5 separate regions of the Homo sapiens genome follow, and all the other regions are linked to region 1. Evidence: fine-mapped expression QTL. A gene starts in region 1. Each other region holds a variant in brackets. All regions are shown on one strand. Distances are between the middles of the regions. Region 1 holds the start of FBXO42 (F-box protein 42). Region 2 has its middle 6.0 kb from the start of CPLANE2. Region 3 overlaps FBXO42 (F-box protein 42). Region 4 overlaps FBXO42 (F-box protein 42). Region 5 overlaps FBXO42 (F-box protein 42).

Region 1 (5,105 bases):
AAAACTATGTCTCAAAAAACAAACAAAAAGAGTTAATTCATTGACTAAAACAATTCTGAAATCACAAAGATAATTACGTATTTGTTCATCTTTGAGATAGCTTCTCCCTGGGACCTCAGTGTTCTCATAAAACTCAGACGTTTTGTTAGCATTTTCTTTGCTTGCTCTCCATAATAGGTAGGACTCACCCTGCTCTGAATCTTACTCAGGGTTTAAACCACATAAAGCTGTTATTAAAGACCCCTCTAGAAATCAGACAAGAAGAAGCATCCTAAGCTATTTTTTTTCTGATCCTGTTCTTTTTGTAACTAAGGTAAGGAATTGCAAAGGTCAAAATCTGGAGAGCAAATGATGTCATGGATGTCATGAAGTTGCATCAATACCTGATGATGATTTAGCATAACAGTGCAACATATTATGCCAAGAAGCATAATGATGAGCCACCAGGATGTTTTACTGCATTAATTTCATGACTCTTTATTAGCAAATTGATATGCAAAGTAGCTCTCCAATTTTCTACCACAGAGAAGCTGCTGGTTCAGATTTACATCTTTAGCAAAGACACTAAGAAAATCGACAAATTTCTATGGAAAAGTCTTTGATTTAAAAATAGAAAAGGAGGCTGGGCACGGTGGCTCAAGCCTGGGGTGGGGCAGGGTATCGCTTGAGACCAGGAGTTTGAGATCAGCCTGGGCAACATCGGTGAAACCCCGTCTCTACTAAAATTACAAAAAAAAAAAAAAAAAAAAAAAAATTAGCGGGCGTGGTGGCGCACACCTGTAATCCCAGCTACTCAGGAAGCTGAGGCAGGAGAATCGCTTAAACCCAGGGGATGGAGATTGCAGAGAGCCGAGACTGTGCTACTGCACTCCAGCCTGGATGACAGAGTGAGAAACTGCAAAAAAAAAAAAAAAAAGAAAGAAAGAAAGAAAGAAAGAAAGAAAGAAAGAAAATGGTCAAATAATAACCTAAACAGTTGTCATTTTAACAATGAAAAGCTTTTTAAGATACGCAACATGCCTATGGATCAATGTAGATTGAATCATCTATTTATACTGGCTTGTCAAAAGCAAACAGTTACTGGGTATAAAATGACAACATACAATAGAAAAGACACCCAATCAGATTACACACGTGAATACACTCAAAGTTAGCAATTTAACACAGCATCACTAATGGCCATAAGATATACAGACTTAATTCTAAATATTCAATTCTAAATGATGGTACTTCCCCCAAATTTTCCTTGCCTCTTTAAATCCATGATGTCATCATTCTTAAGCAGAAGTAAAGCCAATTTGTTACAAAAGATATTTTGGTGTGTCCAAGCAAAAGCAATCGCCTCAACAATTCTGCATAGCACAAGTTCAGTGAAGCCATCATTCCTCAAGAAAGAGACCACAAGGCTTCAAACCGACTTCCCTACATGACAGAAACACAATCGAAGTCTCCCAATTAGCATTTAAACAGCAATAAAAGTTGTTCTCAAAAAGGAACAACATAGTTTCAACGTCGGGGCCAGCAACTGCCAGCAAGTAAAACTGGTAATGTGTCAGAATCTTCATCTAGATCGATCAGAATCCCACCACAGAAAAATCCAGACTCTGGCAATTAAGAAATGAGGCTTTTATTTTCCTAACAGAAATCGGGAGATTTAACAGACAAAGCAATTGGTTATTCTGAATCTTAACAAACCGAAGGTTTCAAACGAACTCAGCGCTGAAGTTACTCTGCAGCGACCATCAAGATCTCACAATCGTTTTCTCTTCGCTTACAAATTCGTTCCCACCCTCCACCGTTCCCTTTGCACACACAATTCTCGCCAAGAGAAGCCTTCCACAGTCACAGCATGGATTGCTGTCTCAAGCAAGGAGATCCGCAGTTCCCATTTCTCTAAGGGAACACTCAACAAGCTAGGGGATAGGAAAGGCCTTTTGTGTTTTATTTAACGTAAACCAATTCCAAAATTATCCCTTTGCAGCTGCAGGTTCAGAGATGCTAGCCCCCAGCCGCAGCCCCAATTTTGATGGGCACCCGACCCCCGACTCCTCTCTCGCAAAGGAGTGAAATGTTCGGAGGAGCGATGAAAGATTACCTGACACCCTAAAGCCATCCTTGCCCGGGCCACACACCCCTTCACTGCCCGGGTGAGGGGACGAGAACCACCCTGCTGAGGAGAGGGGGTGGGTTCGCTCCCAACCCAAGGGCTGGCTGGAAAGGAGCTGTCCTCCTCCTCGCCTCACTCGAGGACGGCGATAGCAAGTCACCCTGCCCAACCAGGACCGACCCCCGCGTGGGATACGGGGCCTGCGTCAGACCCCGGGCGCCCGCTGCCCCTTGCCAGTCCCGGGCATAAAGGGCAGAAGGCGCCGGCTCCCCTCTGCGGCCCGGGGAGGAGGAGAGGCCTCACCTGGCCCAGCCCGCTCCACGCTCTCGGGTTCGCTCCGCTGGCGACGGTAATGAGGGAGCCAGGGACAGGGCCAGAGCAGAGGCGCTCTGCCTCAGGCCGCGACAGCCGTGCTCGGGGCTCCTCACAGCTGGCGGGACCCCGAGCCGCCCGGAGCCGCCATCTTCCTCCACTCAAACGCCGCCGCCGCCGCAGCTGCTGCTGCTCAGGCCGGGAGAAGACAGCGCAGAGCGCGCATGCGCCGGGGCGGGCGCGGCGGACGCGCGCGCACTCACGTCAGCGCGGCGGGATGGCGAGGGGCGGCCAGGGGGCGGCGCAGTGTTGAGAAAGGCCGTGGTCACAGGCCGAGGTTCTGTGGAGGGTGGAATGCGCTCGGGGGAGCTAGGCCTCCGCACCCGCCTTCGCCGCGTCTCTAGCGTCGACCTGATAGCCGCACCCACCCTCCGCTGCACTGTCTGGGGCAACTGGGTGGTTTTCCCGGTGGTTTGAGACTAACATTTAGCCAGGAATTAACTCACTTCTACCCCGAGGGCCCGATGAGCAGAGAGGGCTGTGGCGGATGTGAGTGCTCTTGGATATCGCCAAGGGGAGGGAAACTGTGCTTGAGGTGTGCAGGAGAAGTCTTCCCTTAACCGTAGCCTCGTAGCAACCACTGTGAGTTCTTACTAGCTCCACTTTTCAGATGAGGAAACTGAGGCACAGAAAACGATCACTTATTTGCCCGGAGTCACACACCTATCAGTGGAGGTGGGGCGGCGCGGGAAAGAGGATTTAAACTCAGGCTTGTCTGGTTCCCAAGCTCCTTTACTTCCTACTAGCTAGGTTATAGGATCCAGCAAAGTCCCCCTTCTCAAGGGAGCAACCTGGTGTGTAGGTGAGAACCTTCATGAGCCCAGCCCTACAGCATGTGGTCTAAGGAAATGCCAGATACAGAGTCAAAGGCTTCAGTCTAAACTCTGTAAGCCAAAAAAACAAAACAAAACAAAACAAAAAACTAAGCCCCCACCCCCCCCCCAACACCAAACCATCTGAACGGACTTCCTCCTAGGCCAGGGCAGTCTAAAATGTAACCAACCTGAGAGACTGGTTCAGGCCATGACGGGAAGCAGGACATGAGACATGCCTCATTACATCCTTCAGCATTGACATCAACACAACAGACCTTAAGACTGGTAAGAAACATTTACAATCTGTTCTCTCTGGAGCCCACCTGCCACTTGGAGGCTTCACGTGCGTGATAAAACTTTGGTGTCCACAATCCCTTATCATAACCCAGACATTCATTTCTATTGATAATAACTTTTTTTTTTTTGAGACAGGGTCTAACTCTGTTGCCCAGGCTGGAGTCCAGTGATGAGTTCTTGGTTCGCTGCAACCTCTGTCTTTCAGGCTCAAGCTATCCTCCTACCTTAGCCTCCTGAGTAACTGGGACTACAGGCGGGCACCACCATGCCTGGCTAATTTTTCCATTTTTTTTGTAGACACAGGGTTTCGCCATGTTGTCCACTCTCATCTCAAACTCCTGAGCTCAAGTAATCCACTTGCCTCGGCCTCCCAAAATGCTTGGATTACAGGCGTGTGCCACCGCACCAGGCCTATTGATAATAACTATTTCAACTCATTGCCAATCAGAAAATGTTTAAATCTGCCTATAATGTGGAAGCCCCCACTTCAAGTTTCCGGTCTTTCTGCACCGAACCAATGTAGTTTTTATTTATTTATTTACTTATTTTTATTTATTTGTTTATTTTTTTGAGACTGAGTCTTGCTCTGTCGCCCAGACTAGAGTGCAGTGGCACCATCTCCGCTCACTGCAACTTCCGCCTCCTGGGTTCAACCGATTCTCCTGCCTCAGCCTCCCGAGTAGCTGGGATTACAGGCGCCCGCCACCGTGCCCAGCTAATTTTTGTATTTTCAGTAGAAAATACAAAATTCAGTAGAAAATACGGGGTTTCACCATCTTGGACAGGCTGGTCTCAAACTCCTGAACTCGTGATCCACTCACCTCGGCCTTCCAAAGTTCTGGGATTACAGGTGTGAGCCACGGCGCCTGGCCTTTTTATGTATTTATTGAGACAGGGTCTCACTCTTCGCCCAGGCTGGAGTGCAGTGGTGTGATCTCCACTCACTGCAACCTCTGCCTCCCAGGTCCAAACGATTCTCGTGCCTCAACCTCCTGAGTAGCTGGGATTACAGACATGTGCCACCACACCCAGCTAATTTTTGTATTTTTAGTAAAGACGGGGTTTCACCATGTTGGCCAGGCTGGTCTCGAACTCTTGCCTCAGTTGATCCACCCGCCTCGGCCTCCCAAAGTGCTGGGATTACAGGCATACGCCCCTGCACCTGGCCCTGTATTAATATATCTTAAATGTATTTGATTGATGTCTCATGTCTCTCTAAAATGTATAAAACCAAGCTGCTTCCCAACCACCTTGGGCACATGTTCTCAGGATCTCCCAAGGGCTGTGTCATGGGCCATGGTCACTCATATTTGGCTTAGAATAAATCTCTTCAAATATTTTACAAAGTTTCCTCCTAGGAAATCTCATGGGGCATAGGGCTGGGCCAGAAGCCAAGTTCCCCTCAAGTTGGAGGGCAAGGCCTCTTTGAGCAGACTTGGGTCACCCTTACCCATAGAGAGCTGTATGAGCCAGAGGCGGTGGTGCATACTTGTCAGCCCAGCACTTTGGGAAGC
Region 2 (5,105 bases), 110 kb before region 1:
CACGCCTGGCTAATTTTTTTTTTTTTTGTATTTTTGTTTGTTTGTTTGAGACAAAGTCTCGCTCTTGTGCCCCAGGCTGGAGTGCAATGGCGCGATCTTTGCTCACTGCAACCTCCATCTCCCAGGTTCAAGTGATTCTCCTGCCTCAGCCTCCCAAGTAGCTGGGATTACAGGCGCCTGCCACCACACCCAGCTAATTTTTGTATTTTTAGTAGAGACGGGGTTCTACCATGTTGGCCAGGCTGGTCTTGAACTCCTGACCTCGGGTGATCCGCCCGCCTTGGCCTCCCAAAGTGCTGGGATTACAGGCATTAGCCACCATGCCCGGACTTTTTCTTTTGTATTTTTTTAGAGGTACGGTTTTGCCTTGTTGCCCAGGCTTGTCTCAAACTCCTGGCCTCAAGTGATCTGCCTGCCTTGGCCTCTGAAAGTGCTGGGATTACAGTCATCAGTCACCATGCTCACCCTTCATTACCTTTTTTTTTTTTTTTTTTTTTAGTCTAGATGAATTTATTGCCATTCACATATTTCATAGAAAAAAAGATGTAGCAAATGGGTCAGGGTTGTACCAAAAAAATCCAGGTTTATAAGGTTGCTCTATTTACATCTGAGAGCAGGGCTGTCCTGGCATCAGGCACAGCAGCTGCAGTTGTCCGACGTCCCTTTGCAGATGCAGCCCTGGGCACACTTGGCACAGCCCACAGGGCAGCAGGAGCAGCAGCTCTTCTTGCAGGAGGTGCATGTGCACTCTTTTCATTTGCAGGAGCCGGCACAGGCGCAGGAACCATCAGGCGAGCAGGAGCAGTTGGGGTCCATTTAGAGGCAGGGAGAAGCAGGAGTTCCTGATCAAGAGGCAAACACTCAGCGGGACAGATGAAAAGCGTGCCTTAATTACCTCTTTAAAGGACCTATTTCCAAATATGGTCACATTGGGGGCTAGGGCTTCAATGTATGGATTTGGGTGGAGCAGGGCATAATTCAGTCCATAACAGGGTCCACAGACCTCATGTAAACACTGCTGCTGGGCAAAGGAGGCCAGCTGACTGTTGGGACCTGAAAGTGACATGGTTAGAACTGCGTTTCAGAAGGACGCTTGTGGACCGTGTTGGTCTATGAGTTCTGCTCTCCTGTGCCCCTCTGACCACTAAACTATGTGTCCCCCTAAGCCAGCTGCTTCTCCTTTCAGGGCCTCAAGCAAAACATGTAGAACATCTCCCTAAGGACTCTTCTAGTCTAGAGCCCTCTGATTTTTTTTTTTTTTTTTTTTGAGACAGAGCCTTGCTCTGTCGCCAGGCTGGAGTGCAGTGGCATGATCTTGGCTCACCGCAACTTCCACCTCCCAGGTTCAAGCAGGTCTCCTGCCTCAGCCTCCCAAGTAGCTGGGACTACAGGCGCATGCCACCACGCCTAGCTAATTTTTGTATTTTTAGTAGAGACAAGGTTTCACCATGTTGGCCAGGACGGTCTCAATCTCCTGACCTCGTGATCTGCCCGCCTCGGCCTCCCAAAGTGCTGGGATTACAGGCATGAGCCACTGTGCCCGGCCTAGAGCCCTGTGATTAATCCACTCATTTCTTCTTGGTTTGGTCTCCCCACAAATATTTATTAAAAACCTCTTGGACAAGGTCCCCACAAGACCTTGAGAGGACTCCACAAGGCAGGGACACAGTCACCAACTTGACAGAGTGGATGGGAGGCCCAGGTGGGCAGACACACAGGCCGAGCTGGGGTGAGAATGAGGCATGGAGAGCCCTGCCTGAGGATCCTGGGTAGGTGTGGGGCGGGAGGTCAGCTAGGACACCAGGCTTAAAATCCTCTTGGCTCCTAGAATAACACCCACCCCTCCCTCAGCATGGCCTGGCACCAGGAGTGCTCCACTCCCACCTGGAATGCTTGCTCTGCCTCCTAGCAGTCCTTCCACCAGGCTCACTGGCTTTAGG[G/C]ATTCTCCAAGCTGGAGCCACAGCCAGTTAATCAAGTCAGGTCAAGGGCACCAGCCTCGCCACCAAGCTCAGTGGTCAATTCTCCATCCTCAGATCACCTGACCCTGGGATCATTCCCAGGTGACTGGATGGATGGTGGTGCCCCTAACTGTGGGGGAAGCATGGAGGAAGCGCACAGGGTCAGAGGAGGAGCCCCTGGGGAGTGAGGGAGGGTGGGGGGCTGCCCAGAGAGGACACACTCACAGCAGATGTTGGAATGTAAAGCGCAGGTGAGCGGCCTGAGTGAAGCTGGACATTACTGACGGCGGAGGGACCAAGCCTGAAGCAATGGGTGTAGACAGATGAGAGGTCCGGATGCTGTGGACAGACAGCAGAGCCTTGGATGCCACCTGGGCAATGACAACGACGAGGTCAGACCCAGGAGAGGCAGAAGAACCGGAAACCCCCTCCTCCAGCCCGCCCTGAGGCTCATGTTTGGTGTGCAGGGAGGCTTGCCCAAATCCCAGGGAAGCATGGCTGGGGAGCGATGCTACTCCTTGGACGCCATCTCTTGTGGGCCTTCTGCTGCAGAGAGCACTCTGCTCTGTGCCTCTGCCGTGGCCCCAGCCATGCGGTCCTAAGTGTTGTCTTCCCACTACGGATTCCACTCGGGAGCTCCTTTCCCATTACATCTGAGGGGATGACCTCTGGCCATCAAGTCCACATGGGTCACCCTCCATTGTCCTCAGCCCTGACCACTGGCTGCTGCGGCTTATAGGCTTATCAAGACCCTGCATTACTGACTGCCAGAAGCGAGGCCTAGACCCCACCCATCTGGGATGCCCCAGATAGGTTCTATCCTCATCTGCCCCCCTGCCACAGGTTAGCAGGACGAGGCCAAGTGCCATGATCTGAACGTCCTGCCAGATTCACATGTTGAAGTTTAATCACCACTGTGACAGTATTAACAGGTGGGGCCTTCAGGGAATGACTAAGTCATGAGGGCAGAGCCCTCACGATGGGATTAGTGATGTTATGGAAAGGCGTGAGGGGCCAGTTCATCCCATCCACGGTGTGAAGACACAGCCTTCACGATGGAGCAGCAACAAGGCAATGTCTTGGAAGTGGAGACTGGGCCCTCACCAGACACCAAGCTTGATGGTGCCTTGAGCTTGGACTTCTAAGCCTCCAGAAATGTGGGAAATACATTTCTGTTGCTTATAAATCACTCAGTCTGTGGTATGGTATATAGCAGCACAAGGGAACTAAGACACCAAAGCAAAGAGAAGGCTAACTTCTTGGCTTCTGGCTTCCCGAACAACTGTCCCAGCCCTGGGTGGCTGCACTGGTTGCAGATGGTTCTACTGACTCCATCCTCTTTGGTATCTTTTTAGTATGATACCTGGATTGTCTTTTGACCTTAGAATCTCAGGATTTGTCATTTTTGTTTAGCCCATGTGACACCTCCCTGGTTTGTGATTAGGCTGTAAGCTCCTTCATGGGTGGGCCTCTTTTGTGTCTTGTGTGTGTCCCAGTGCCTCGGGGGTCACAGATGCTCAGGGAATGCTTGCTGAGAGTGAATAGTCTCCCAGTCAGTTCCAGGTGTTCTAGGCCTTGTCAACGGGCCACAGCCCATGTCCTCGGGCAGGAGCATCCTCCCTCTCCCCAGGCTTCTGCTGGAAAGGAGCCCTCCTTCTCTTCCTTGCAGTAGGTGGGCAGACAGGCTCCCTGGTGGGTGCAGAACACACTCTGCTAGGACTTTTTGGCATTTACTTAAGACATGGGCTTGGCTTTGTGCATTCCGACAGGCTCTGGACCCAGAGCCCAGCCCCATGAGAAAGATGGTAATTTTCCCACAGCTGAGGGCTGGGGAAGGAAAGGCAGGTAGGCCAGCTGGAGGATGGTACTTGAAACAAGGCAGGGGCCAGGGACGGGTGCCCCCCAGGCTTAACTGACAGAGGGAGGGGAGAAACAGGCAAGCATTTTCTTACTCCTGCCCATCTGCTTTCTTTCTCAAGACTGCCTCCGACAGATCGCCCAAGCACACTTGAAGCCTTTCACAGGGTGCCCTCAGGTGGCCTTTTGGGGAATCACACCCATCCAATGGATTAAACGATTCTTGGCTGGTTCCAGCTAAGTTGCTAACCTGTGAGGCTGGCTGCCATCATTGCCATTTTACTGATAAAATTGAGGCTCAGTGAGGCAGGATGACTTGCTCCAGCTCAAAGTGACAGTCAGCTCCTGAACCTAGGTCTGCCCTGTCCTACTGCCTCTAAGTCCCTTCTGAGTCCACAGAACTACGTCTCAAAAAATTGAAATGGCATCAAGCGTTTCCTTGGTTCCAATCTTGATCTGATGCATCTCTGTTATTTCCTCCCATGCAGGTGGTCAGACCCTGTTTGAACACTTCCAGCCGTGGGCAAATCATCACCTCACACAGCATCCACTGACATGCTGGCAGTGTTTGTGGGAAGAGAAGTAGTAAAGCCACTGAGACCAGAAGGTGGAACTTAGCTGGGAGTCTCTCCTTGGCCTGGGGGAGGTGAAAAGGCACAGAGCACTAAGACCCAGTCATGTGCGGCAGCACCACGCAGAGGCCAGCCTGCAGGATTTTCACGGGCAAAATTTTGGTGGATGCTTCCTCTCCTGCCTGGACGTGGGGGTGCTCAAAGCCTACCACTTCTAGGAACCTTTCTCAGGCCTCACGGGAGGAGTAATGAAGGCAAAACCTTGGGCTGAGGTGCTGATTCCTGCACTGTCTCCCCTTCCCCAGGCAGATTTTCAATTTACACCCGAATGTGCATAGGCCTCTGGCCCTTTATTTATTTGTTGGGAGATGGAGTCTCGCTTTGTTGCCCAGGCTGGAGTGCAGTGGTGCAATCTTGGCTCAATGCAGCCTCCACCTGGGTTCAAGTGATTCTCCTGCCTCAGCCTCCTGAGTAGCTAGGATTACAGGCGTGCACCACCATGCCTGGCTAATTTTTGTATCTGTAGTAGAGAAGGGGTTTTGCCATGTTGGTCAGGCTGGTCTTGAACTCCTGACCTCAAGGGATCCACCTGCCTTGGGCTCCCAAAGTATTGGGATTACGGGCGTGAGCCACCATGCCCAGCCCACTGACCCTTTAGTATCCAGAAAAGCAAGAACCCTGGCTGGGGAGTGCTGTGCTGGCCCTGCAGTGGAAGGCA
Region 3 (5,105 bases), 50 kb before region 1:
TATTTTAAGCACCCTAGCCTACTGAACTTTACTTATTGCCTATTTTTTATTTAAGACACCTATAGATTGATCTGAGAGGGGCAGGGGCAGGGAGGAAGACCCAACAAGTTCAAATGAACCTTTTAGGAAAAAGAATTTGAGCAACTCCCAGTGCTCCAGTAGTAATTTCCCTTTTCACAAGTTCTCAACCTAAATAGAAAATTTTCCTTTCAGAACATCTAGACCACTAGAATGTGCTATACAGTTACAGCTCACAGTACAGTATGAATACTGGGCTAACAAATAATACTGAGAGTGTCTATTCCAACTGGTAAATCTCTTCAAGTTTTCTGAAATGGGCTTAGTTTACGACACATACTAATCATCCCTATTAAAATACAAGTCAAATAGTCACAATTTAATTACACACAGAGCAAGCAAACAGTTCTTCACAGTTCTGAATACTTCTCCACTATTCTATAATCATCTCAAGTGCAAGATCTTCCAGTAGTTTCATCTTTTCCATGGTGTATGGAGCATTCAATAAATGCTCACTAAATGAATGATATGCTTTTGCATTTTCAGACGTCAAATTCTCTTTTGTTTCTTCACCTGTCTCCAGGGAAAGATCCTGAGGCATTTATCCCATGCTTAAAGAGACTATGCTGTCATGTGTCTCACACCTACAAGCCAGAACATATTTGATAAGGTCTCTAATTACGTAACTATGAAGAAGCAAGGGCGGTTATCCAGTCTGGGCCTGCTGGCTCCTGCAGGAGCATGATGAGCATTGTGTATGAAACTACCTGACTATATGTGACACCTACAACACTGAAACATTTTTCAATGCATGATGTTGGGGACTCAGGAGACCCCCTACATCAATCTGAAAAGGACATTCTACATTAATTAAAGCTTGCATGATTAGCTATGCACACATTCACCAAAAAGCTAGAATTGGCCTTTTTTTTTTTTTTTTTTTTTTTGAGACAGAGTGTTGTTCTGTCACCCAGGCTAGAGTGCAGTGGCATAATCTTGGCTCACTGCAACCTCTGCCTCCCAGGTTCAAGCGATTCTCCTGCCTCAGCCTCCCGAGTAGCTGGATTACAGGCGTGCGCCCACCACGCCCAGCTAATTTTTGTATGTTTAGTGGAGATAGGGTTTCACGATGTTGGCCAGGCTGGTCTCCAACTCCTGGCCTGAAGTGATCCACCTGCCTTGGCCTCCCAAAGTGTTGGGATTACAGGGGTGAGCCTCTGCACCTGGCCCTAGAATTGGCCTTTTTACTTCACCTGACTTTTTTGTCCCAGACTTTTCCATAGGAAAGATACTATACTGTGCATACCTTTGTTGCACTTAAGTCCACAAAAATTATTAGGTATCAAAATATATTGATACCAAATTTATTAGATATCAACTATGAACAAGGTGTTGTGAAACAGTACAAGAAGGCTGGGTGCGGTGGCTCACACCTGCAATCCCAGCACTTTGGGAGGCTGAGATGGGCAGATTTCTTGAGCCCAGGAGTTTGAGACCAGACTGGGCAATAGGGCGAAACCCCGTCTCTACTAAAACTACAAAAATTAGCTGCGCGTGGTGGCAGGCACCTGTAATCCCAGCTACTTGGGAGGCTGAGGCAAGAGAATAGCTTAAATCTGGGAGGCAGAGGCTGCAGTGAGCCAAGACCGCGCCACTGCACTCCAGCCTGGGTGCTTGGGTGACAGAGTGAGACCCCATCTCAAAAAAAAAAAAACAACAAAAAAAAAAGAAACGGTACAAGAATGTCTAAGACATGGAGCCTGTCTATCTTCAAGTAGACGACAATCTTGTGGGGGAGACATCATCATCATCCTACTTTTTTACAGCTTAAAATATATACATATATTTTAATTTTAAATAGAGATGTTGCCCAAATTGGTCTCAAACACCTGGGCTCAAGTCATTCTCCTGCCTC[G/A]ACTTTAAAACATATTTTTACAAGTGTTTTCTTAAATGCATTTCTCAGCAATCTATGGCACAAACAGAATTTGTCATATCCATTTTTCAGACAAAGAAACTGTGGGTCAGACAAGCCAAGAAACTTGCTTCCCACATCCAAAGGCCTTTCCTTTTTAGCATGCAGCCTCTCTCACACAGATAATAATGGCAAAAGACAGATGGTAATAAATAATGGAGGAAGGTATGAATAGTATATTAGGGAAGCAGAGAGGAAGAAAAGAGCTTAATATCTACGGCGAGGAATCTGAGAGAAGTTGGTAAAAAATGTGGCTTTTGATTTTATCTTTGAGATGACTTTTAGAGAACAGGACACTTTCAGTCCATTAAGAAGGGCAGGCCGGGTGCGGTAGCTCAACGCCTGTAATCTAGGCACTTAGCAAGACTGAGGTAGTGTATTAGTCCATTTTCACACTGCTATAAAGAACTATCCAAGACTGGGTAATTTATAAAGGAAAGAGGTTTAACTGACTCACAGTTCCACATGGCTGGAGAGGCCTCAGGAAACTTACATTTATGGTAGAAGGCAAAGGAGAATCAAGCAACTTCTTACAAAGCAGCAGGAGAAAGAGCACAGGGGAAACTGCCACCTTTTTTTCTTTTTTGAAACGGAGTCTCGCTCTGTTGCCCAGGCTGTAGTGCAGTGGTGCAATCTCAGCTCACTGCAACCTGCACCACAGGGGTTCAAGCAACTCTCCTGCCTCAGCCTCCCAAGTAGCTGGGACTATAGGCACCCGCCACCAGGCCCGGCTAATTTTTGTATTTTTAGTAGAGACGGGGTTTCACCATGTTGGCCAGGCTGGTTTCAAACTCCTGACCTCAAGTGATCCGCCCTCCTCAGCCTCCCAAAGTGCTGGGATTACAGGCGTAAGCCACTGCGGCCAGCCGAAACCGCCACTTTTAAACCATCAGATCTCATGAAAATTCTTTCACTATAACAAGAACAGCATGGAGGAAACCGCCCCCATGATCCAGTCTCCTCCCACCAGGTCACTCCCTTGACACATGGGGATTACCACTGGAGGAGATGAGATTTGGGTGGGGACACAGAGCCAAACCATATCTGGCGGGCACACTGCTTGAGCTCAGGGGTTCGAGACCAGTCTGGACAACATGGCAAAACACAATTAAAAATTTCAAAAACTAATTCAAAAAAGAAAAAAAGGGAAGGGCAAATAAGGAAGTTTAAGACATAACAAGGAGGTTCATGTGGCTGAAGTCTGGCTACCTAAGGATGCAGCAGTGAGTCAGGCTGAAAAGGCAAGCCAGGTCCTTGAAAGGCAGGCAGAATGAAAACTCCTACATGCAGCACACTAACGCTGAAGCTTGCTGACGGAAGAATGCAAGGCTAGTTGCATGTTTCAGACTTGCAGTATTTCCCAACAGGAGCTCTTATCATTTGGGGCAGGATAATCTTTTTATCTGTAGGACTGTCCTATGCACTGCAGGATGCTGCACATCCCTGCCCCTTGCCTACTTCATGTTTATACTGCTTTTCAGTGATGACAGTAAGCAATGACTTTACAGATTTCTTACAGATTTCCGAATGTCAGAGGAGGAGGAGATACTGTCCCCAGTTTTAGAGGTGGTTATTAATGGTCTTTAGTCCAGGTTCACATGAAGAGAGAAGAAAGGCAAGAAGATAATTTTTTTTTTTTTTTTGAGACAGAGTTTCGCTCTTGTTGCCTAGGCTGGAGTACAGTGGCATGATCTCGACTCACTGCAACCTCCGCCTCCCGGGTTCAAGTGATTCTCCTGCCTCAGCCTCCTGAGTAGCTGGGATTACAGGTGCCTGCCACCATACCTGGCTAATTGTTTATATTTTTATTTTATTTATTTTTGAGACGGAGTCTCACTCTGTCACCGAGGCTAGAGTGCAGTGGCGTGATCTCGGCTCACTGCCAGCTCCACCCCCTGGATTCACGCCATTCTCCTGCTTCAGCCTCCCCAGTAGCTGCGACTACAGGCGCCCGCCACCATGCCCGGGTAATTTTTTATATATATATTTTTTTAAGAGACGGGGTTTCACCGTGTTAGCCAAGATGGAATTGTTCATATTTTTAGCAGAGACGGGGTTGTACCATGTTGGCTATGCTGTTCTCAAACTCCTGACCTCAGGTGATCCGCCCGCCTTGGCCTCCCAAAGTGCTGGGATTAGAGGCGTGAGCCACAGCACCCAGCCAAATTTGTATTTTTTTTTTTTTTTTTTCTGAGATGGAGTTTCACTCTTGTTGCCCAGGCTGGAGTGCAATGGTGCAATCTCGGCTCACTGCAACCTCCGCCTCCCAGGTTCAAGCAGTTCTCCTGTCTCAGCCTCCCAAATAGCTGGGATTACTGGCATGTGCCACCATGGCTGGTTAATTTTTTTTTCTATTTTTAGTGGACAGGGTTTCACCATGTTGGCCAGGCTGGTCTCAAACTCCTGACCTCAGGTGATCAGCCAACTTCAGCCTCCCAAAGTGCTGGGATTACAAGCGTGAGCCACTGAACCCAGCCCAAATTTGAATTTTATAATCGACACTTGTCACATTCAAAATTTTTGTAGGAGTCCATTTAAATTTTGTGTTTGCTGAACATGTATTATGTTAAATAGCCATTATATGACCTAGTACTAAAATCTGACTACTCCCTAAGCAAAATCTTAGAAATACCCTCATGTACAGCTTTCCTTTGTTTTCCTCTTAGATAATGTCAGATGTTTAAAACGCTAAGCATAACACCTTGACCACTCTGGAGTAGAGAAAAATCCAATGAAAAAGCAGAGGGCTGGGCGCGGTGGCTCACACCTGTAATCCCAGCACTTTGGGAGGCCGAGGTGGGTGGATCACCTGAGGTCAGGAGTTCGAGACCAGCCTGGCCAACATGGCGAAACCCTATCTCTACTAAAAATACAAAAATTAGCCAGGTGTGGTGGCACACACCAGTAGTCCCAGCTACTCAGGAGGCTGAGGCAGGAGAATCATTTGAACCCAAGAGGTGGAGGTTGCGGTGAGCCAAGATTGCACCACTGCAATCCACCCTGGGCAACAGAGACTCTGTCTCAAAAAAAAGAAAAAGCAGAATATAAAATTCTTAACAAACTGCCTACAATATATTTAGGCTGACACTTTTCCCTAATTCTGGTTATAAAATTA
Region 4 (5,105 bases), 62 kb before region 1:
AACTCAAGCCATCCTGGCCTCAGAGTGGCCTGGCCTCAAGCCATCCTCCCACTCAGCCTCCTGAAGTGCTAGGATTACAGGTGTGAGCCACTGTGCCTGGCCTGTGCTGTCATTTAAGGGAAGTCAGGCCCTTTGTTTTCAGTGTCAAACTCTCGGCCAGGCACAGTGGCTCATGCCTGTAATCCCAGCACTTTGGGAAGCCGGGGCGGGTGGATCGCCTGAGGTCAGGATTAACCTCAGGTGATGAAACCCTGTCTCTACTAAAAATACAACGTGATGAAACCCTGTCTCTATTAAAAATAGCCTGGCCAACGTGATGAAACCCTGTCTCTACTAAAAATACAAAAAATTAGCTGGGTGTGGTGGTGGGCGCCTGTAATCTCAGCTACTTGGGAGGCTGAAGCAGGAGAACCACTTGAACCCAGGAGATGGAGTGAGCCGAGATCATGCCATTGCACTCCAGCCTGGGAAACAAGAGTGAAACTCTGTCTCAAACAAACAATAATAATAGGCCGGGTGCAGTGGCTCAAGCGTGTAATCCCAGGAGGCCGAGGCAGACGGATCACGAGGTCAAGAGATCGAGACCATTCTGGCCAACATGGTGAAACCCCATCTCTACCAAAAATACAAAAATTAGCTGGGCATGGTGGCACATGCCTGTAACCCCAGCTACTGGGGAGGCTGAGGCAGAAGAATCACTTGAACCCGGGAGGTGGAGGTTGCAATGAGCCCAGATCGCACCACTGCACTCCAGCCTGGTGACAGAGCGAGACTCCATCTCAAAAAAAATAAAAATAAAAATAAAAATAATAATAATAATAATAAACAAATGTCAAACTCTCATAACAATGAATTACTAGATACTACTACTTAAACATTTAATAGGAACCAAAAACTAACCTCTCCCAAATATTTATTTTCCACTTCAGCAAATGGCCCCACCATCAACGTAGCTGTATAAACCTGAAACATAAGTCACCCTTGATTGGCCTTCTCATGCTCCTAAATCTAATTCATTAAGAAGTCTTGGCCGGGCGCAGTGGCTCATGCCTGTAATCCCAGCACTTTGGGAGGCCAAGGTGGGCGGATCACTTGAGGTCAAGGGTTCCAGACCAGCCTGGGCAGTATGGTGAAACTCCACCTCTACTAAATATACAAAAATTAGCCTGGTGTGGTGGCACACTGCTGTAATCCCAGCTGCCTGGGAGGCTGAAACACAAGAATTGCTTGAACCCGGGAGGCAGAGGCTGTAGTGAGCTGAGATTGCACCATCATACTCCAGCCTGGGTGATAGAGTGAGACTATGTCTCAAAAAAAAAAAAAAAAAGTTTTGTCAGTTTCTTACTGATATATGCTCATCTGAGTCTTGTCAATATTGATGGCCTTCTGTCTAGTCTGGTTTACTTTCTTGCCTTCCTTCATTTCCTAAATAGAAGCAAAATGTGCTCTAAAATGTAAATTGAGGCAGGGAAGGGCAGTGGCTCATGCCTGTAATCCAGCACTTTGGGAGGCCAAGGCAGGAGGATCATTTGAGGCTAGGAGTTGAAGACCAGCCCAGGCAACATAGTGACACCCTAGTTCTACAAAAAAAAAAGAAAGAAAAGAAAATGTCCCGATGTGGGGGTGCAAACCTGTGGCTCCAGCTATGCAGGAGGCCGAGGTGGGAGGATCACTTGAACCCAGGGGTTTGAGGCTATAGTCAATTAATTATGATTGTGCCACTGCACTCCAGCTTTGGCAAGGGAGCAAGATTGTCTCTTTAAAAAAAAAAAAAAAAGTAATCCAGATGATGACATTCCTCTCATTAAAATCTCAAAGGTTTCTGAGTCCCCACCTTAGTCTGTGAATAAGCTTGCTCCTGTCTTTATCTCAACTCCCCCTGTGCCACTCTCTCCCCTGCTCCTTAGGCTACATCCACAAAGGTCTGCTTTAAGCTCCTCTAACATGTCCTTTTCTTTGCTGCACCAGGCACATGCCATTCTCACTTCCCTCCACTATCATTCTTTAGGTCTCAGCCAAAAACAAACAAACAACAACAACAAAAACAAACAAACAAAAAGTCTCCTGTTTAAAGTAGGTCTCCCCTAACAGCATGGGCAACATAGTGAGACCCCATCTCTACAAAACAATACAAAAATTAGCCAGGCATGGTGGTGCACGTTTGTATTCGCAGCTACTCAGGAGGCTAAGGCAGGAGGTCGAGGCTACAGGGAGCTGTGACTGTGCCATTGCACTCCAGCCTGGATGACAGAGTAAGACCTTGTCTCAAAAAAAGGAGCTCTCCCCTTATTCTATACTTCATTCCGTTTGTTTCCTTCATAATTTATAACAATTTGCTTACTTGCTTCTTGTTTCTTTCCCGTTACAATATAAGCTCCATGAGGGCAGGGGCCACAAAAGCAGGTGTAAATGGGAGGAGGTGTTACCTTGTTGGAAATGTCTGAGAAGTACTAGCTGTGGGTCTCTTTTAGTGTAAGATCTGTCATCCCAACACTCGTCACCACTCTACCTCCAATACCACTCTTCCTCCAGATGGAGCACTTCTATCATTTTGAAAGGAACTAAAGACAAGATTTCACTGGGAAATTACATTAATTCCAACTGGTATAGATGGAATTGTGTCCTCCACCAAATCCATATGGTGAAGCCCTAACGCCAAGGTGATGCTATGGTGGAGATGAAGCCTTTGGAAGACAATGAGGTTTAGATGAGGTCATGAGGGTAGCCCTCATAAGATGAATCCCCTTATAAGAAGCACAAGAAGCTGGGCACAGTGGCTCATGCCTGTAATCTCAGCACTCTGGGAGGCTGAGGTGGGTGGATCACCTGAGGTCAGGAGTTCAAGACCAGCCTGGCCAACATGGTGAAACTCCGTCTCTACTAAAAATACAAAAATTAGCCAGGCATGGTGGCACACACCTATAATTCCAGCTACTCGGGAGGCTGAGGCAGGAGAATTGCTCCAACCCAGGAGGCAGAGGTTGCAGTGAACCAAGATCGCACCACTGCACTCCAACCTGGGTGACAGAGTGA[CA/C]AAAAAAAAAAAAGAAGCACAAGAGATGCCAGAGCTCACTCTCTGCTACATGAAAACACACTGAGAAGGTGGCAGTCTGCAAACCAGGAGCTGGGAAGAGAATCCTCACTAGAAGCCAACGATGCCAGATTCTCATCTTGAATTTCCAGCCTCTAGAACTGTGAGAAATACATTTCTGCTGTTTAAGCTACCCAGTCTATGGTATTTTGTATGGCACCCTGAGCTGACTAAGACACCAACCAATAGGAGAATGCTCTAATCTCATAACCACATAACCAAATACACATGTAAAAAGACATCTGATGCAGCAGTATTCTCTATCAAGACTCTCCACTCCCAACCAAAAGTGTTCCACTCCTTGCTTGATGCTCTTACTTCTCCAACAGCTACACTTTTGAAGTCTGAACACTGTTAAAGCAACTATTACCTTCCTGTACATACTCTGTTAGAAGACAACCTCACAACTGACAGTGCCCTCCCCTCAGTCACCCTCCAATCTACCTACCTCGATGCACTAAAATGAGTGAGTCAGGTACACCAAGACTTATAAACAACTATGTTTTATTCAGAAGGACTAATTGACATTTCAGTTAGGAAGTGATTTTGATTAGGACTCATGATAGCATACAGAAACATTGTCTTAGGGCATCTTACATGGGGTTTCTGCCTAAATGAGAATCTCATGGGACTTTTTTTTTTTTAATTTATTATTTTATTTTGAGACAGTCTCACTCCGCCACCCAGGCTGGGGTGCTGTGGCGCAATCTTGGCTCACTGCAACCTCTGCCTCCTGGGCTCAAGTGATTCTCATGCTTCAACCTCCTGAGTAGCTGAGGTTACAGGCACATGCCACCATGCCCTGCTAATTTTTTGTCTTTTTAGTAGAGATGGGGTTTCGCTATGTTGGCCAGGCTCGTCTGGAACTCCTGGCCTCAAGTGATCCTCTCACCTCAGCCTCTCGAAGTGCCAGGATTGTAAGCGAGAGCCACCAAGCCCAGGCTATTTTTTGAGACAGGGTCTCCCTCTTTCACTCAGGCTAGAGTGCAGTGGAGCAATCATCACTCACTGTAGCCTTGAACTCCTGGGCTCAAGCAATCCTCCCACCTCAACCTCTCAAGTAGCTAGGACTACAGGCACATGCCATCATGCCCGGCTCATTTTTAATTGTTTTGTAGAGACAGGGTCTCACTATGTTACCCAGGCTGGTCTCAAATTCCTGGCCTCAAGAGATCCTCCTGTCTCAGCCTCCTAAAGTGCTGGGATTAGAGGAGTGAGCCACTGTGCCCAGCCAGGACTCTTTATTAAACAATTGTTTTTTATAAGTAGACATTTCAAAAAGCTCAGGTTTTCCTCCTTCTAAAACTAGCCTCTAATTGCAGATTAGGATGAGGGAGTAACTAGATTCTTTGAGACATTTTGTTAGAAAATTACTTTAAACATTCAGGAGTTTGTATGTTTTGTCAAAGGGAATATTCCAAATGCTCTATTTTTAAAAATTCATATTCCATAGAGAATGTAAATGATTGAAGCAGTTATTTCTCCAATATTTCTACTTTGGGAATTTCAAAGCATAACCTTTTCTTTGGCTTCCCTCCCTCCCTTCCTGCCTTCCTCTTTTCTTCCCTTCCTCTCTTTCTCTTTCTTTGTTTCTTTTTTTGAGACACAGTCTCACTCTCGCCTAGGCGTCTGGGCTTATATCTGTGGGCTCAAGCAATCCTCCTGTCTCACCCTCCCAAGTATCTGGGACTATGGAGGCATGCCACCATGCCTGGCTAATTTTTTGTTTTTATTTTTTGTAGAGATGGGGGTCTCACCATGTTGCCCAGGTGAGTCTCAAACTCCTGGCCTCAAGGGATCCTTCTGCCTTGGCCTCCTAAAGTGCTGGGGTTATAGGCGTGAGCCACTTCGCCTAGCCACAAAGCAGTCTTTAAACTTGATGGTTTAAAAAAAAAAAGTCTTACTCCATATTACAGGGAGAAATAAGCACAGTAGTTGGCAGAGGCTATGAAGGTCCCCAAACCAGAGCTCCATTTTAACAAGAAAGAGCACCACCCATGCTAAATTATCAAAG
Region 5 (5,105 bases), 85 kb before region 1:
TGCTCCTGCAAGAACACTTATAAAATGAAGGTTTTATACTCATTAGGACATTTCCTGGCCTGCCTTCAAAATAACAAAGCCACTGGGCTTCTAAATTCAGTCTAAGTGCCATTACTGCACAAAAGTGAAGAAAGGAAGGGTGTCATTCCCATTGAGTTCCCATCAAGCACGACAGGACCAAATGTGCCCACATCAAGCGTAGATGAACATGTTACTTGAGCCTCTTCCCCTAGAGCCCTCTTCCCCTAGAGCCAGGAGTCACCCTCATGGGCTTCATTCCCCAAACACATCAAAGGCCTCCTAAATCGCACAGCAGATATGATCAATGGAACAAATTTCAAAACAAGGCACAAGCCCAAAAGGCAGCTGTGGCAAACTGAATAATCAGATAGACACCCTATACAACAGAACTAACATTCCCTAAAACTGCTAATAGGTTCAGCTGTTTCCCAAGGTTCCTATGAAATCAGAATAAAATTTCACATATGATGGTGGTATAATTACACGGCATTCTTGTTTACGTTTGCAAAGAAGCTGGTTAAACAGTGAAGCAGTTCCAAATCCTAGTTTGATTTCTATGCCACTTTCCCACAATTGTAGTGTCTATTTACACAGAACCCAGGACTACATAGAGCAGCTCAACTATTTGATAACAAGATAAAACAATCACCTGTTTTAATTGGGGATGCCTGTATTTTATGCACGATTTAAAAATGTATGTATATATTTTTTGAGACGGAGTTTCGCTCTTGTTGCCCAGGCTGGAGTGAAATGGCGCAATCTCGGCTCACCGCAGCCTCTGCCTCCCAGTTTCAACGGATTCTCCTGCCTCAGCCTCCCGAGTAGCTGGGATTACAGGCATGCACCACCAAGTGGCTAATTTTGTATTTTTAGTAAAGATGGGGTTTCTCCATGTTGGTCAGGCTGGTCTCGAACTCCCAACCTCAGGTGGTCCTCCCGTCTTGGCCCCCCAAAGTGCTGGGATTACAGGCATGAGCTACCGTGCCCGGCCTAAAAAATATTTTTATATCTCCATGCTATTATCATTTTTTAGTATTAGTTTATTGTTAAGGAGTTATAAATAATACTGTTTGATGGCCTATTATGTGCTAACTACTGAGTGCTACAAATTTTATATTTATTATCTAATTTAATCATTATAACCTTAAAATGCAGGTATTACTAGCCTCATTTTACAGATGAATAATGGTAGGTGAAGCTAATGCATAATGCTTACACTGAGCTAGACACTGTTCTAGGTACCTCTTGAAAACTAAAAAAGAAAAAAAAAAAGGCAAATTCCATGTTCTGAGTAATCAAGAAATCCAACCTAAAGGGTTATTTAATGAAAGAAGAGTTAATCCCTTGTCCTTGGAAGTTTAGGTTCAGATAAGTCCCTATTAAAAAAAAAAAAAAAGACATTTCAAGGCCTCCTAAAGGAGCTCTATATGGCTCACAAAGCCTTTTGGTCCCTGATCTGCATACTACACAGTTGGCTCTGAGTACAGGTGTCTTAGGCAATAATAGCCAAATGTCACAAGATGAGAAGCAGGTATATAATCCTACCATTTTCTCAATATCACTTACATTCTCAACAAATAGAACTGTTACTCTAGTCTTACACACTTCAGACTTTTGGGGAGAAACTGACTTATTTATTTTTATTTCCTTAAGAAAATGAAAGTGCTTTAAAACACTTTCAAATAAAATAATCAAACAAGATAGAACTTTTGAAAGAAAAAGTCAGAACCCTTTCTACCCCACGGAAAATGGCTATTTTCATGGCTGTTTTCAAAGTATAGTTTTTTTTAAAAAAAATAGAAACATCTCTTTCATACATATATAGAGTAAACATGTGTTAGGATATATTTAACTTATTAATAAGGGAGCAAGCAGGAAGTAATGCTAATTCAAAGGAGAATTTGAGGAAAAGAGCCATGCTAAAATAAGTTTGCTAACAGCTAGGCACAGTGGCATGTACCTGTAGTCCCCAGCTACTCAGGAGACTGAGGCGGGAGGATGGCTTAACCTCCTGCCTTAAGATAGGTTAAGTCTCCCCATCTTAACCACTCTGTGCAGACTCGCTTTCTCAGAGTGGGTCCAATATAAAGCATTCACTTCCAACTCCAGCTCCACAGGCAGTATACCAGTCCTTCACACACAAAACTGGCCTTGAGGGCAAAGTAATGCCAGATAGACCAGTTAACTAAAACCCTACCCCACAGATGCTGTTTTTTGTTTTGTTTTGTGGTAGTGAGGAGCCTCAAACTGGCGTGTGTATGGGGGGTGGGAAGGATGGATTTTGCTGATAAAACCAAAGCTGGGTCTTGGAAAGCTCTGACTAAGCATCTGGCTTGATAAAGCTGTCATCATGGTATTGTGTGAAGTGACTGACCTCAACAGCAGGAGTTCAGAGATCAGGATAATTTGGACAGATATTTCCCAGAATACCATATTACCATCATAATCAGAAAACCTAGAGGGCACTGGAGGATAGCGTGGCACATATAACTTTGAAGGAAACAGATTC[C/T]TTAAAGAAAAACTGCTGGTGTTATAATTTAACTGCTTACTCAAAACTATTTTGATTTTACAGGCAATACTTCGTAAGGGCAACAACAAAAGCATGTTTCATGGTTCTGTGGTGTGAGGAGGTAGGGATAAAAGGATAATTGAGAAAAACACTTCAAAATTCATGAGTATAAAGTCTGTCTTGACCATAAACACCTTGAAGACAACTATTTGGAATGGTCTCCAAAATACTGCAGCCCAAGGACCAAGGGGTTTCTATCTGGAACAGATACTAGTTTCTCTTCTGGTAATAAAAATATTTCCAACTTAACATCAATGTGGCCAATAATAATTACAAGTCATTGCATTTATATAAATGCCCATGAAGATACAAGTACATAATGCTTTAAAGAAAGAAATAGGAAGTAAATACAAAGTTACAGAACCTCTAAACTCCTGCTTCCTAAGACTTGGTTCTACCCAGGAGTGCTCTTTAATTGCAGTTCTAATCAGGGGTGTTGAAATTATCCATTTAGATTCTCCCCAGTAAGACTACACTATCCTAGAAGACAGGGACTATTTCTTATGAAAATGTTTGTTGAATTGAAGCCATCCACGGAAGCCAAATGGTTATAGATCTCTCAGGAGCTGAGATCAGGGTCGGCTCCAGCTACTTATAACATACCCTAGAGGCATCAGCCCACCTTTGGGTGGGGTTAAAGCCAAACATTTTTTTGGGTCTCCCCCTCTACCCACTCCATTTTTTTCTTCCTATTTTACTCCTCAATTGTAAAAAGGCCAGAAAAGTTACTGATTGACATCAACATTCACTGGTATTAGACAAAACTTGTCTGGATCTCAGGATTCAGGGTATACATTATTATTACAACTATATCCACATCTTTAAAAACATCATTCTATGGGTCATTTATGAAATATCCAAATAACAGGAACTTTTGTAATGGGCATGAGAAACTTTTAGATCTTATCTAACTATGCCACAGGCATGAACTAAAGGAAATTCTCTATTGGCATTGTTTTCACTTCTTAACAAAACCATATGAAAGACCACTTGATGAATAGGGCAGCACTTATCAGCTAAAAATGAACAATACAAAAGCCAGTAATAGTTCCTTGTTACCATTTCAAGTAGTCTTTTGATTCAATTTCTGAGGGAGGAGAGGAGGTCCAAAGTCTCAGTTTAATCTGATAATTTGTTAATTGCAGTTCTAATGGGGGTGGGGGGCATAGGGGGTACTCTTTCAAGTAGGGACTTTAAGAAGTGAAAACAATGTTACCAGTCATAAAGTTTCTAGCCTGGTGTCAAAACAGAAAAATCCTTGTCAGCCCTGAGAGTGAGCCAAACTGAAATATGGTAAAATCTTACTTATTCTCTCCCTGGGAGGACTAAAAGTTACCCAGATCTGTCCTATACAAATTTTCCCACTCTTCTCTTTAGCAGGAGGTAATGTGTATACACCTTAGAAAAGCATGTATTCTGGAAAAATCCCAGGGTCTGAACTTTCTAAATAAACAAGAAGGATTTCTTCCTTTTCTAAGGGAACCTACTGGCTCTGCTTTCATTCACATGTCCTGAGACCATCACAGGTCCAGGTTGTTACAGGACTGCAAAGGGCTACAGGAAACAAGGAAGAACCACCACCTCATGAAGAAGGTTAACCAGGAATAGGTCCATGGGTCAGGGAGGAGCTAATATAATAACTTAAAATATTCCCTTAAATAACATCTTAACTCCTTCTTAATCAAAAGCACATCACTTTAATAAGAACAAAGAGGCCGGGCACAGCAGCTCACGCCTGTAATCCCAGCACTTTGGGAGGTCGAGGCAGGCAGATGACCTGAGGTCGAGAGTTCAAGATCAGCCTGACCAACATGGAGAAACCCCGTCTCTACTAAAAACGAACAAACAAACGAACAAAAAAACAAAATGAGCTGGGTGTGGTGGCACATGCCTGTAATCCCAGCTACTCGGGAGGCTGAGACAGGAGAATTACTTGAACCCGGGATTCTCCGGTCTCAGCCTCCCGAGTAGCTGGGACTACAGACACGCATCACCACACCCAGTTAATTTTTGTATTTTAGCAGAGATGGGAGTGTTTCACCATGTTGGCCAGGCTGGTCTCGAACTCCTGACCTCGTGATCCACCCACCTCGGCCTTCCAAAGTACTGGGATTACAGGCGTGAGCCACCGCACCTGGCTTTTTTTTTTTTTGTGACAGAGTCTCTGTCTCTGTCACCCAGACTGGAGTGCAGTGGTGCAATTTCAGCTCCTGGGTTCAAGCGATTCTCCTGCCTCAGCCTCCTAAGTAGCTGGGACTACAGGCACATGATATCATACCCGCCTAATTTTCTATATTTTTAGTAGAGATGAGGTTTTGTCATGCTGGCCAGGCTGGTCTCAAACTCTTGACCGTGGGTGATCTGCCTGCCTCGGCCTCCCAAAGTGCTGGGATTACAGGTATAAACCACCGAACCCAGACTTTTTTTTTTTTTTAAGAGAGTATCACTCTGTTCCCCAGGCCGGAGTGCAGTGGCACTATCTCAGTTCAAGCCATTCTCGTGCCTCAGCTTCCTG

The links. PIP is the estimated chance that this variant, and not a neighbour inherited with it, causes the effect. A credible set is the group of variants that fine-mapping cannot tell apart.
Region 2: its variant is the best candidate, but not a certain one, in a credible set for the expression of FBXO42 in whole blood (TOPMed, PIP 0.53).
Region 3: its variant is the best candidate, but not a certain one, in a credible set for the expression of FBXO42 in whole blood (INTERVAL, PIP 0.84).
Region 4: its variant is the best candidate, but not a certain one, in a credible set for the expression of FBXO42 in whole blood (INTERVAL, PIP 0.61).
Region 5: its variant is the best candidate, but not a certain one, in a credible set for the expression of FBXO42 in lung (TOPMed, PIP 0.71).

The regions. Positions count from the first base shown.
Region 1 is chr1:16,349,845-16,354,949 of GRCh38, forward strand. It overlaps FBXO42 (F-box protein 42), which reads right to left and starts at 2,636. Exons shown (of 10, transcript NM_018994.3): 1 at 2,411-2,636. RefSeq lists an enhancer at 1,901-2,675.
Region 2 is chr1:16,240,583-16,245,687 of GRCh38, forward strand. It overlaps the pseudogene MT1XP1. Among named protein-coding and RNA genes, the nearest start is that of CPLANE2, 6.0 kb to the left of the region's middle. The variant G/C (reference allele first, on the strand shown) is at 1,941.
Region 3 is chr1:16,299,952-16,305,056 of GRCh38, forward strand. The region is part of intron 3 of FBXO42 (F-box protein 42); the gene reads right to left. Among named protein-coding and RNA genes, the nearest start is that of FBXO42, 50 kb to the right of the region's middle. The variant G/A (reference allele first, on the strand shown) is at 1,934.
Region 4 is chr1:16,287,648-16,292,752 of GRCh38, forward strand. The region is part of intron 4 of FBXO42 (F-box protein 42); the gene reads right to left. Among named protein-coding and RNA genes, the nearest start is that of CPLANE2, 53 kb to the left of the region's middle. The variant CA/C (reference allele first, on the strand shown) is at 3,034.
Region 5 is chr1:16,264,379-16,269,483 of GRCh38, forward strand. The region is part of intron 4 of FBXO42 (F-box protein 42); the gene reads right to left. Among named protein-coding and RNA genes, the nearest start is that of CPLANE2, 30 kb to the left of the region's middle. The variant C/T (reference allele first, on the strand shown) is at 2,531.